2 separate regions of the Homo sapiens genome follow, and region 1 is linked to region 2. The links come from fine-mapping of genetic effects on gene expression. A gene starts in region 2. The other region holds a variant in brackets. All regions are shown on one strand. Distances are from middle to middle. Region 1 overlaps EXOC3L4 (exocyst complex component 3 like 4). Region 2 holds the start of TNFAIP2 (TNF alpha induced protein 2).

Evidence for each region. PIP is the estimated chance that this variant, and not a neighbour inherited with it, causes the effect. A credible set is the group of variants that fine-mapping cannot tell apart.
Region 1: its variant is the best candidate, but not a certain one, in a credible set for the expression of TNFAIP2 in whole blood (TOPMed, PIP 0.56).

Annotation. Positions count from the first base shown.
Region 1 is chr14:103,095,048-103,100,047 of GRCh38, reverse strand. The region is part of intron 1 of EXOC3L4 (exocyst complex component 3 like 4); the gene reads right to left. Among named protein-coding and RNA genes, the nearest start is that of EXOC3L4, 2.8 kb to the right of the region's middle. RefSeq lists a silencer at 1,532-1,701 and an enhancer at 4,745-5,000. The variant C/T (reference allele first, on the strand shown) is at 2,964.
Region 2 is chr14:103,120,556-103,126,063 of GRCh38, reverse strand. TNFAIP2 (TNF alpha induced protein 2) reads right to left here and starts at 2,603. Exons shown (of 12, transcript NM_006291.4): 1 at 2,113-2,603. LINC00677 (long intergenic non-protein coding RNA 677) reads left to right here and starts at 3,155. Exons shown (of 2, transcript NR_138038.1): 1 at 3,155-3,455; 2 at 5,033-5,215. RefSeq lists silencers at 2,312-2,361, 2,662-2,941 and enhancers at 2,606-3,139, 3,140-3,672.

The DNA.
Region 1 (5,000 bases), 26 kb after region 2:
GAGAGCCCTCAGTGTGCCAGGCCGCAGCTGGGCACGGAGATATAGACAGCTGCTTCCATCAGGAGCCTTTCCTGAGACCATCCCCCAAAAAGGGTCTCCGCAGGTGCCCACCGTCACTCGGCCTCTGCCAGGCCAGACCCTCCCATTAGAATTGGAGGAGGGCACTGACATGCAGTTCTGGGGCCCAGTCCAGACCACAGCTCACAACACCCGAGGGCAGGACCAGCAGCCACATCTAGGCCTTCCCAGATGTTAGGTCCTGAGGCCTAAAACCCTCCCCCCAGCCCCCACCAGCTCCTTCACTGCCCTCCAGGTCCCTCAGCTCACCCGCCTTCAGCCCAAAAGGCCTGACTACTTTGGCTCAACGGGGAGGGCAGGGACCCCCATGGGAGCCCACCCCCTTCCCTGGGTGTCACAGAGCCCGCCGAGGAGGTGTGGGGCCTGAGGGCAGTGGCCAAGGCCACCCTGCGGCTTATCATGGCCATGCAGCCACAGGGGCGGCAGAAGGAGGAGCCTCGGGTCTATATTTAACCAGGGACTGGGGGGGTTCTCAATGCTGTTTCCCACCCATTGCCTCTCCTCCTCCCCCCACTCCTCTCCCTCTCCACCATAGCATGCTCTGGCCCCTCCCCAACACAGGGAATGGAGGGGGTGTCCCAGGGACATGGGGGTGGCTGAGCTGCGGCTGCTCCTGCTCCCCCAGGGCCCTCGGCACCGTGGCCTGCCAGGCTCCACCCACACCCCCTTCCAGCGTTAGGAGCTGTGTTTGCTTTCCTGGCTTTAGGTTGGGAGAGGGGAGGGGCCTCCCACCCACCCCATTGCACAAGCTGGGCCATGGGTGGGGGAGGGCATTAGGCCAGCAAAACCTCACTTTCCTCTGGGAGAAACTGGGGCCAAAGAAGGGCTGGACCTGCCCCTAGCCCAGCCCCAGGGCCCCCCACCCAGGTGCCAGGACCAAAGCACCCGCCTGACCCACCACCCAACCCTTGGGTGACATCGGGCAGGAAGTGTGCCTCCCCAGGCCCCAGTTTGCTGCGGTGGAATGACACCAAAGTGGGCAGGGCCCAGACCCCCACCCACCCTCGCCCTCCAGCAAGGTGCCTGCTGGGCCCAGCTGCAGCCTACCTACCTTCCTTGAGGTTCCCAGAGGCGGCTAAGCAGCTGGATGGAGGCCCGAGGAAGGAGAGACAGTCAAGTGATTGATGGAGCTTTATCAGCCCCGCCCTGGCCACAGGTCGGCGACTTCCCCCAGCGCCAGGGTTCAGGGACCCTGCCTGATTCGGACTTGACCCACACTTCAGGGCACCATCTGTCCCAGCCTCCACTCGCTTCTCTCTCCCCGGTGCCCCTTCATGCTTGGCATGGGGGCCGGCGCCCAGCAGGGCAGGGGTGTTGTGAAGAGAACGGTTCAGCACATGCTGCATCCACCGCTGTCAAGAGGACGGAGGCGGGGATGTGGGGAAGGACAAGCCAGGCCCCGCCTTCTTGTTTGGGAGAACTCACACTTAGTAAGCACCTACTGTGTGCCCAGCTCGATGCCTGACACAGATCAGCTACTGTGACATCAAAGTTAGGGGTTGTCATTTGCCCATTTCACAGATGAGGAACCTGAGGCTCACAGAGGGACAGAGTCTGCCCCTGGCCGCGCACTCAGGCTGGGGAGCCTGCTTGGAGCTGGGAGCAGAGGCGGGACCTGCCACGTCTCCACCCCCAGGGACTCAGAACTGCCGCCCAGAAGCTCCCCTCCCGGCGGAGAGACCCAAGGTGTCAGCAGGTCCCAGAGTGGGGTCAGATGTGGAGGTTCTCTCCCAGGAAGCCCAGACGAGCGCCGGGTAAGGAGGGGCAGCTGTGCGGTGAATCTCTTAGGAGGTTACATAGGCAGAGGCTTGGGGGTCACTCAGCCTGCTTTTGTCCCAAACCAGAACTTCGCTGAAGGGCCAGTGAGGTCCCCAGATGGCCCCTCAGCCTCCAGCCATGCCACCTTCGACCCTGCAGCTCCCAACAGCTTCCCAAGCTATTCTCGACCTTCCCAAAGCAAAAGTCCAGCCAGGTCACTCCCCTGCTTTAAGCCCTTCCATGGTTCCCTCCTGCCCGAGCCCCACAGCCGGGCATCCATCCTGGAACCTCCTTCCTCCACCCCCCACCTCCCGCTGATGACACCTCACCAGCTTCCCCTGGGGTTCACGGACAACCTGCACCCCACCCAGCTTCTTCTCTGTCCTCCCGGCTGCACGCCCAGCCTCCAGCTTCCCCTCCGGCCATTCCCTTTCCTGGCCCCTGTTTGTTCTCCAAACCTGACTTGGGTTTCAGGACCTCGGGGTTCAGATGCCTTGCACCACCGGCCGTCACCATCTATCTGCTCAGTGGGTACTCGGCACTGTCCCTGTGATGATGTGGCCCTCCTGCACTGGGCTGGCAGCCTCTGTCCATCTACCCCGGTCACCCCTGAGCACAGCCTGGAAGCAGGCGGAACATCGGTATCAGGGTCGCCCTGCCACCCCCGGCTGGCCTGCCTGCTGCCATGCTGGCGCCTGCGGGGCTGAGACCTGAAGGCCCCTCTCAACTCCCCCCTCCACCTCCCAAGGCTCTCGCCTGGCCTGTCCCTGTGCCTGCCTCCCCACACCCCCATGGACTCTCTCTGGCTCTCTTTTCTCTCTGCGTCTCTCTGTCCCCAGTGCCCGGAGAGTCCAGGGGGCCCCGGCTCCTATGCTGCCGCTCCCTGATTGCAAGGCCCCAGAGACTGACGCCCGGCCTGAGCCCCGGGTCCCACTCTCCCCAGGTCAGGCTAATACACCCTTTGTGGGGCCAGCAGCAGGGGCAAGAAACCACCCAGAGACACAGTCACTGAGAGCTCCCACCCTGGGCCACCCTAGCTGTGTCCGAGAAGTCAAGTCCGAACTTCCCCACCCTCCCTACCCCCAGCCTCAGCTTCTACTCCCCGCTTTCCCCTAGACCTTCCCTCC[C/T]GTAGCTGCTCCTCATCCTCCCAATCACTCTGCAGTGCTCACCCACTCCCCAGCCTCCCCAACTACGCTGGGACTGGACCATCGCTCCACTCCTCAACGCTCCAAAGGAGCCTCTTGCAGGTGACTGCCTGTACTGTGCCCTGGGCCGAAGCCCTGTGCGGGGCTTGTCCCCTCTCACTTCCCCACCTGCCATCCACCTTCACCTGATCACAGCCTCCGAGCTGCTCTCCTTCCCAGGCCCCCTCAATGCTGCCTCCTCGGATCAGTCATAAGAATCTTGCCTAGCACTTAGACGGTCGTTGGCCAACCTCCCCAACAGCACTTGGGTTTTCCTGTTGAGAGGGGGGACTGAGACAGAACTAGCTGGATTTCCTAGTCCGACTAAGAATGCCTAAGCCTAGCTGGGAAGGTGACTGCATCCATCTTTAAACATGGGGCTTGCAACTTAGCTCACACCCGACCAATCAGGTATTAAAGAGAGCTCACAGAAATGCTAATTAGGCAAAAACAGGAGGTAAACAAATAGCCAATCATCTATCGCCTGAGAGCACAGTGGGAGGGACAATGATCGGGATATAAACCCAGGCATTTGAGCTGGCAACAGCTACCCTCTTTGGGTCCCCTCCTTTTGTATAGGAGCTCTGTTTTCACTCTACTAAATCTTACAATTGCAAAAAAAAAAAGAATCTTGCCAAAACGTCAACCTCCTTTGTTTATTGTTTTTAGAGACGAGGTCTCGCTGTGTCACTTCACCCACTGCTGGAGTGCAGGGATGCGATCATAGCTCACCACAGCCTCAAACTCCTGGACTCAAGCAGTCCTCCCACCTAAGCGTCCCAAGTAGCTGGGACTACAGGTGCGCAACACCATGCCTGGCTAATTTTTATATTTTTTGTAGAGACAGGGGTCTCATTATGTGTGCCCAGGCTGGTCTCAAACTTCTGGCCTCAAATAATCCTCCTGCCTCAGCCTCCCAAAGTGCTGGGATTACAGGAGTGAGCCACCATGCCCGGCCCTATAAACCTCCTTTGAAAGCTTTCCTTGCAAGCTTTCCTTTTCCTTCCAGCCCCTGCAAATAAGGAAAATGACAAGGATGTTTGTTCTCACCATTCTTACTCCTCAACATTTGGCTGGAAGAACTAGTTAAGGCAATAAGGAAAGAAAAATAAATAAGAGATGTAAACACTGGGAAGGAGCAGATTAAACTGTCATTATTCATAGGTGATATGATTGTTGGCTTAGAAAATCTGAGGCTGAAAATTATTGGAGCTAATAAAAGGGTTTAGTAAATTTTGTGCATTGATTATGTAAATACAAGCAACACCTTTCCTATACCCTAGCAAAGCCTATTAGAAAGAGACACTTAAAAGACTTCCCTTCACAGTAGCAACAAAGCATAAGCCCCCTGAGCCGCTGCTGCCCTCGGAAGAAGCACAGCTCCATCCTTAGCTTGGCATTCAAGGCCTCTCCTAATGACCCCTCTGGCTTCAGTCCCAACTCATTCCCTCACTCTGATCACTCAGAAGTACCCACCTCTCCTCCACACCTTTGCACAGGCCATCCTCTCTGCCTACAATGACCTCAGCCCCTCCTTCTTCAGTTGTCAACTCATTGAAGGCTCAGCAGAAATGGCTCCTCCCCCAAGAAGCCTTCCCGGACCAGCTGAGCCCATACCATGTTCGGCACCTCCTGCTGTGGGCCTGATCCCAGCCCTGGGCACACCTGCCATGACGGAGGGACAGTTACAGAGCCTGGAGACCAGGAGACCCGCAAGGCAGGGAGTGAGCCTGACTCAGCCCCCAGCCATGGCTAGTACTCGGCACTTTCCCGGGGAAACCAGGAAAGTGAATCTGATGCCTGAGCTTGAGCGCGCGGGCATATACACACTTTTCTGGGCGTCGGTTTTGCACATCTGTGTGTTGGCCTGAGAGTGTCTCCCTGTATGTGCATGACTCTGCCCTGGAGTGTCCCCAGAGGGTCTGCCAGTGCTTCTGAGTCTGTGTCTGTGCCTGCATGCCCATCTTGGTGTCTTCTGTG
Region 2 (5,508 bases):
GGGACGCCAAGCCCGCCACACAGAGGGGGACTTTCACTTTACTTGGGCAAATCCTTCCCTGCCAGCCCACCCTCTGGGCAGGAAGCAGGCAATGGACACCTCCCTGGATCCCACGGGACCCTAGGGAAGAGGCGGGGCATGGGCTCTGTCCCTTTGGACAGAGCAGGAACAGAGGTCCAGAAAGGTCTGGGACATGCCGGGGTCTAGAACACCAGAACCGGCCTGAGACTGGAACCCAGCCTCCTCCTGCCCAGACCCAGCCCCTCTGCCATCTTGTCCAGTTCTGATCCAGCGGTGGGGTCACAGAAACACAGCTGCTCCAGCTGGGCCATGAAAGGGGCAGAGCCTGACCAGGATCTACAGAAGCCACAGTGGGTGGGACCTCAGACAGCCTTTCACACATCACTGGGGCAAGGGGCTCAGCAAGTCACAGGGCGGCCTGAAGTCACACAGCAACTCGGGTCCAGAACCCAGGCTTCCTGGCTCCCACCCCCTCCCAAATGGGATCGTAGCATCATCACAAAGGCTTCCAGTTTCTGCAGCCTTCCTGGGTGCCCATCCCATCTCTTCCTTTCTCTCATCTGGAAGGGTGTTATTTCGGCTTAAACTGTCCCTATAGTCAATAGCTTGGGCTTGGAACTCAGGCCACCCGGTCCCAGAGCCCAGCTTTCCCCTGCCTCCACATCCCCAGCTATCCTGCAAGCTACATCCAGAGAGGCAAGACCCGAGCTTCCCCAGAGTCCCTGCCCAGCACCTGACCATTGTCAGAGCAAGGCCAGGTCCACTGGAGAAGAGCATGGCTGATCTGAAAGGGGGAAGCAGGCAGGGGCTGGGCCTCCCCAAGAACTGGGGTGACCTGTAACCTTGATGCCACCTGTCTGCCCCACCCCAAGACTAAATGCATGCAGCCTTGTCTCATGTATCATGGTAACTTCAAGTGACCCCTGAAACAGCCCTGCAAGGCAGGCAGGATGATCCACCATCCAGAAGGAGAAACTGAGGCTGAGTAGGAGGTGTTTGCCCCAAGCACAGCAGCCATGGAGGCTCAGACTGGGCCCATCCGACTCTTCCCATGGCCCCGCTGCCTCCACCAGCCCCACTACCCTGTCCCCATCCTGGAGGGGCTTGGCCAGAGCCACCTGAGGGACAGGAAGCCTGGGCTCCTCCCACCCCCAGCCCCTGCCATGCTCACCCAGTGCCCTGGGCAGAGTCCCACACTCCTGGATGGCACTGGCCTCCCTAGTGCCATTTGGGTTGAGCATTCCACTCCAGGACCAAGAGGGGCATGCTCCAGGGAGCCCCAGGGGCAAGGCCATGGGGCACCTCTGCTCCCCACCCGGTGCCCCAACTTCGCTTCCCAGCCCCTCTCAGGTGCATGCCTAGCACCCGCGGGAGCTGGTCTGTCTGGCAGGGCCACTCAGCCCCACCCTGGGTGCCCAGGCCCCACCTCTGCCATTCTCCTGGGGTGGGGGAGGGTGGCCCTTACCAGCAATGCTCCCTGCCAGCCTCACCTCAGCCTTCCCTGTCCCACCCCACATGTACTAGGCTCTGTCCCACCTCCAGGCACAGCTCCCGCAGGACCCCCACAGCATCACCGCCTTCTCCCCTCTGTGACACGAAACCCAGAGCGCCTGAAGGTCCTGCTGCAGCCCCCTGGGCCTCGCCCCAGGTCTCCGCTCTCCGAGGCAGCTGGTGCCATGGAAAGAGAAACGCTTTCGGTGTGGGCTCAGCACACTTCTCACTAGTGTGTGGACTGCACACCTCCTTCCTTCACAAGCCGCCGTTTCCCCGTCTTTGAAAAGGGGATGAGGACCCCCACCCCACAGTGCTGCTGAGGGGATGTGGCCAAACCGCACAGCCAAGTGCTGGGCGCCTAGCTGGGCCTCAGTGGGGGTGAGTCTCCTGTGTCCTGAGTCTGTCCTGCAGGCAGCAGCGAGCCGGTGCAGCCAGAAAGGAAGAAGGGGAGGAGGGGCGTTCCTTTGAGCCTTGCCGCTGGTTGGGCCCACTGAGGCAGGAAGGGGCCTGCTGGGAGGCTCGTAGAGGGGTCACAGCCAGTGGCTCAACAGCGCCCCCCAGCCTCCTGCTGCCCGGCCTCTCCTCAGGTCCACTGACCTGGCTCGCCTTCCCCGTCAGGGCTGATGTCCACACACCTCCCGGGAGCTCGCTGGGCCCGGCTCCTTCAGTCCTGGGCAGGATGTGGAAGGCGCACCCATCCCCCGATGAGGACACCCGGGCACGGGCGAGGAAGTGACTCGGCCTGTGTCGCCCGGCCGGGGAGTCACGCCGGACCTGGGGCCTTTCTGCTGTAATGGAGGGGAGACCCCTGCGCCTGCCCCAGCCCCGCCCTCCCTGCCTCTGGCAGGCCCGGGCCCTCAGCCAGCCTTGGCCCCTCTGCGCCCGGACGCGCGGACGCTGGGCGCGCCAGGGCCTCAGTTTCCCTGGAAGCGTCCAGCCCCCTCCTGTCCCCGCCGCGGCGACAGGCTCTTTCCTCGGGGAATCCGGCCTGGCCTCGGGGTAGGGGCGGGCGAGAAGCCGCGCGGAGCGGCGGGGAATGGACGTGTGGAAGCGGAGGTCACTTACCGTGTCCCGGCCTGGCCGCCACTGTCCTGGCCCGGGTTCCGCAAGGCCTGAAATAGTCGCAGAGTCAGCCCCGCCCCGCCCGCCCCTCCTTCCCCGCCCCGCCGCAACCGCGGAAAACCCGCGGGCGGAGGCCAAGGCCCAGCGCGGCCCGGCTGTGTCCCTGCGTCCCAGGGGCTGGGCGCGCCCGGCCTGCCCAGCGGGGGATGCGGGGCGCTGTCACTTCCTCCCAGCAGCCGGGCAGGGGCGGGGGGCTGGCCGCGCGTCGCATGGTATGTGGAGTTCGGGGGACGGCACGGGGACGACGGGGTTGTCAGGCGCGGAGCCATTGTCCGACGACGGCTCCTGATAGGCCGCCTGGATGGGGCGCGCTTGGCCGCGTTCCCGCGTCACACACCGGCTCCAGCTGCGGGAGAGCCCGTCCCACCCCAACTCCCCAGCCGCCCCTCTGAAGTGTTCCGGTGTCACCGTGGCCACAAGGAGGCAGGGGACGGGGGCTTCCTGAAGGAGGCCCCCTAAGGGGAAGGGGGCTACAAGGCTGGCCAGAGTGCTGGCCGCGCGGCTGTGCACAGGGCCTTGAGCCCCTCCGGTCGTCAAGCCTTGCTTGAAATGCGTAAATGCGGAAAGGTGAAGTGGCTGACCCGGCTCACACCACTTTAAGTAGCGGAGTGGGGTTCCTAGCCAGGCCTATGGGACTCCCACTGGAGCCTTTCCCCCTCTGGGGCTGGGGCTGGACCCACAGGCTGCCGGAGCAGGCAGAAGGGGAGGGGCCCAAGGCCCAGACTCCAGGGCCTCGTCTGGATCATCAACCCGGCTTTGCCCATTCAGCGCAGGCCTCCGTTTCCAGGCCTGTCTCCCCATCCACACCGTCTCTCAGGGTTTGTTTTGGGAGATGTGGGGGTGGGGCATGTGGGGAGGATGGAAAGGGGCTGTGAAGGGAACCCACTGGAGATTCACTTCCTTCCTTATTTCACACTCTAGGCTAGGAATTCCTGCCCTCTGGAAAGGACCCAGACATTTAGGAATTTCCCGCTGGGCAGGGGCTTCCCTCCTGCCTCACTGGGGCCTCTGCTCCTCCCCTCTTTTGTTTGGCCTCTTTCCCCGCCCCCTGATCACTCCGCCACCCCTTCTGCAGCCTAGTAACAGGTCTTCCAGGACCAGGGGGGCCAGCGGAGTGGGGGCGGCTGTGGGTTCAGGTGCCCTGGGAACTGAGAACTTCCTCTTCCAGAGTGCTGGCCAAGCGCCAGGTTTGCACTCGGATTGCCATCCATCATCCTGTCTCTGGGGAACCTGTGGGGGAGCGGATGCGGGAGGCCGCCAGGATGCAGGATGGGGCGTTAAGGCTGCCAACCCCACCCCTTCTCTCCTAGGACTCCAGGGATGACATTTTTCAGATGAGTCCACAGAGCCGCGGTGTCCCGGGGCTGGGAGGGTCCTTCCACCGGCACCGCGCAGATGGAGTTCATCCACACAGGGGCGATGAGGATACGGGCTGAGGGGCCCTGGCCGGTGGCTGCCTTCACGGCTGGCTGCTGTGGCCTCATTGTGCAATCCCCACAAGCCTCTCCTGCCAGACTCTGTTCCCCCACCCCACCCCCTCACCCCCCCTCCCATTCCCAAGCAGATCGGGAAATTGCTCGGGAAGTCTGCATCTGCCAGGAGGGCGTTGTCAGGCCTTAGGCCCCACTGTCCCCTCGAAGGCAGCCCCTGGTCTCCACGGGCTTTGCAGGGCTGAGGCGGGGCTGCCACCCTTGTCCCCCACTGACGGCAGTGGCCCGCCCAGAGCACCGGCTGGGGATTGGGAAACGAGGCTGCTGCCTTGGACTTGTGTCTGCACCAGTCACTTCCCCTCTCTAAGCTCAGGCATGAGGGTCAATGGTAACATACGTGAAGTCCTCAAGACAAGGAAAGTCTTCTGAAAATGGGGCAGCATGGAGGCCCAAGGGATGACAGCCAATGGGGCCCATAGGGCAGGAGCAGTCCTTACCCTCTTCTCGCAGATGCAGAAAGCAGTTCCCAAGAGGCCAGGCACTTCCAGAGGAGCCAAAGGCCAGCCTACGGCTCCTCCCCAGCAGGAAGCCAGCATCACATGCTGGGTGGCGATGTTTGTGACCAGTGGCCAGCGGCTGTCCCATTCCCCAGCTCCCCAGGGCACAGGCCAGGGGCAGTGAGCAGGGGGCTCTGCCTGGTGGGGAGGGCAGCAGACAGGAGCAGACTGGCAATGACCTCTCCATTTAGCCTAGAAGGCGAGTGTGCCAGCACCTGGCCAGGAGCCACGGTCAGCTCCTCGCACGCAACCCAGGGCCTCAGAGGCTACGACACATGGGATGTTCCCTCCCTTCTGTCTGCCAGAGCAATGACAGCTGACTGTTTAAAAATTATTATGGTACAATATACATAATGCAATTTATAATCTTTTAAGTGCACAGTTCAGTGGCATTAAGTATATTCACAGGGTCGTGCAACCAACAGCACCCTCCACCTGCAGAAATCGTCACCTGGCAAAACGGAAACTCTACCCACTATGCACTAACTCCTCTTTCCCTCTCCTCCGGGCCCTGGCAACCGCCATTCTACCTTTCGTCTCTGTGGTCTTGACTATTCTATGTACTGCAAATAAATAGAGTCACACAGCGTTTATCCTTTTGTGTCTGCATCTGCCAGGAGGGCGTTGTCAGGTTTATTTCACTCAGCATAATGCCTTCAAGATTCATTCATGTGGTAGCAGGTATCAGAATTCCCTTCCTTTTTGAGGCTGAATCATATTCCATTGTATGGATGGGCTACACTGTGCATTCATTCATCTCTCTGTGCACACTGGGATTGCTGCTACCTCTTGGCTGCTGTGTACAGTGCTGCTATAAAACATGGGTGTGTATACCAGGTGTGGTGGCTCATGCCTGTAATCCCAGCACTTTGGGAGGCCCAGGC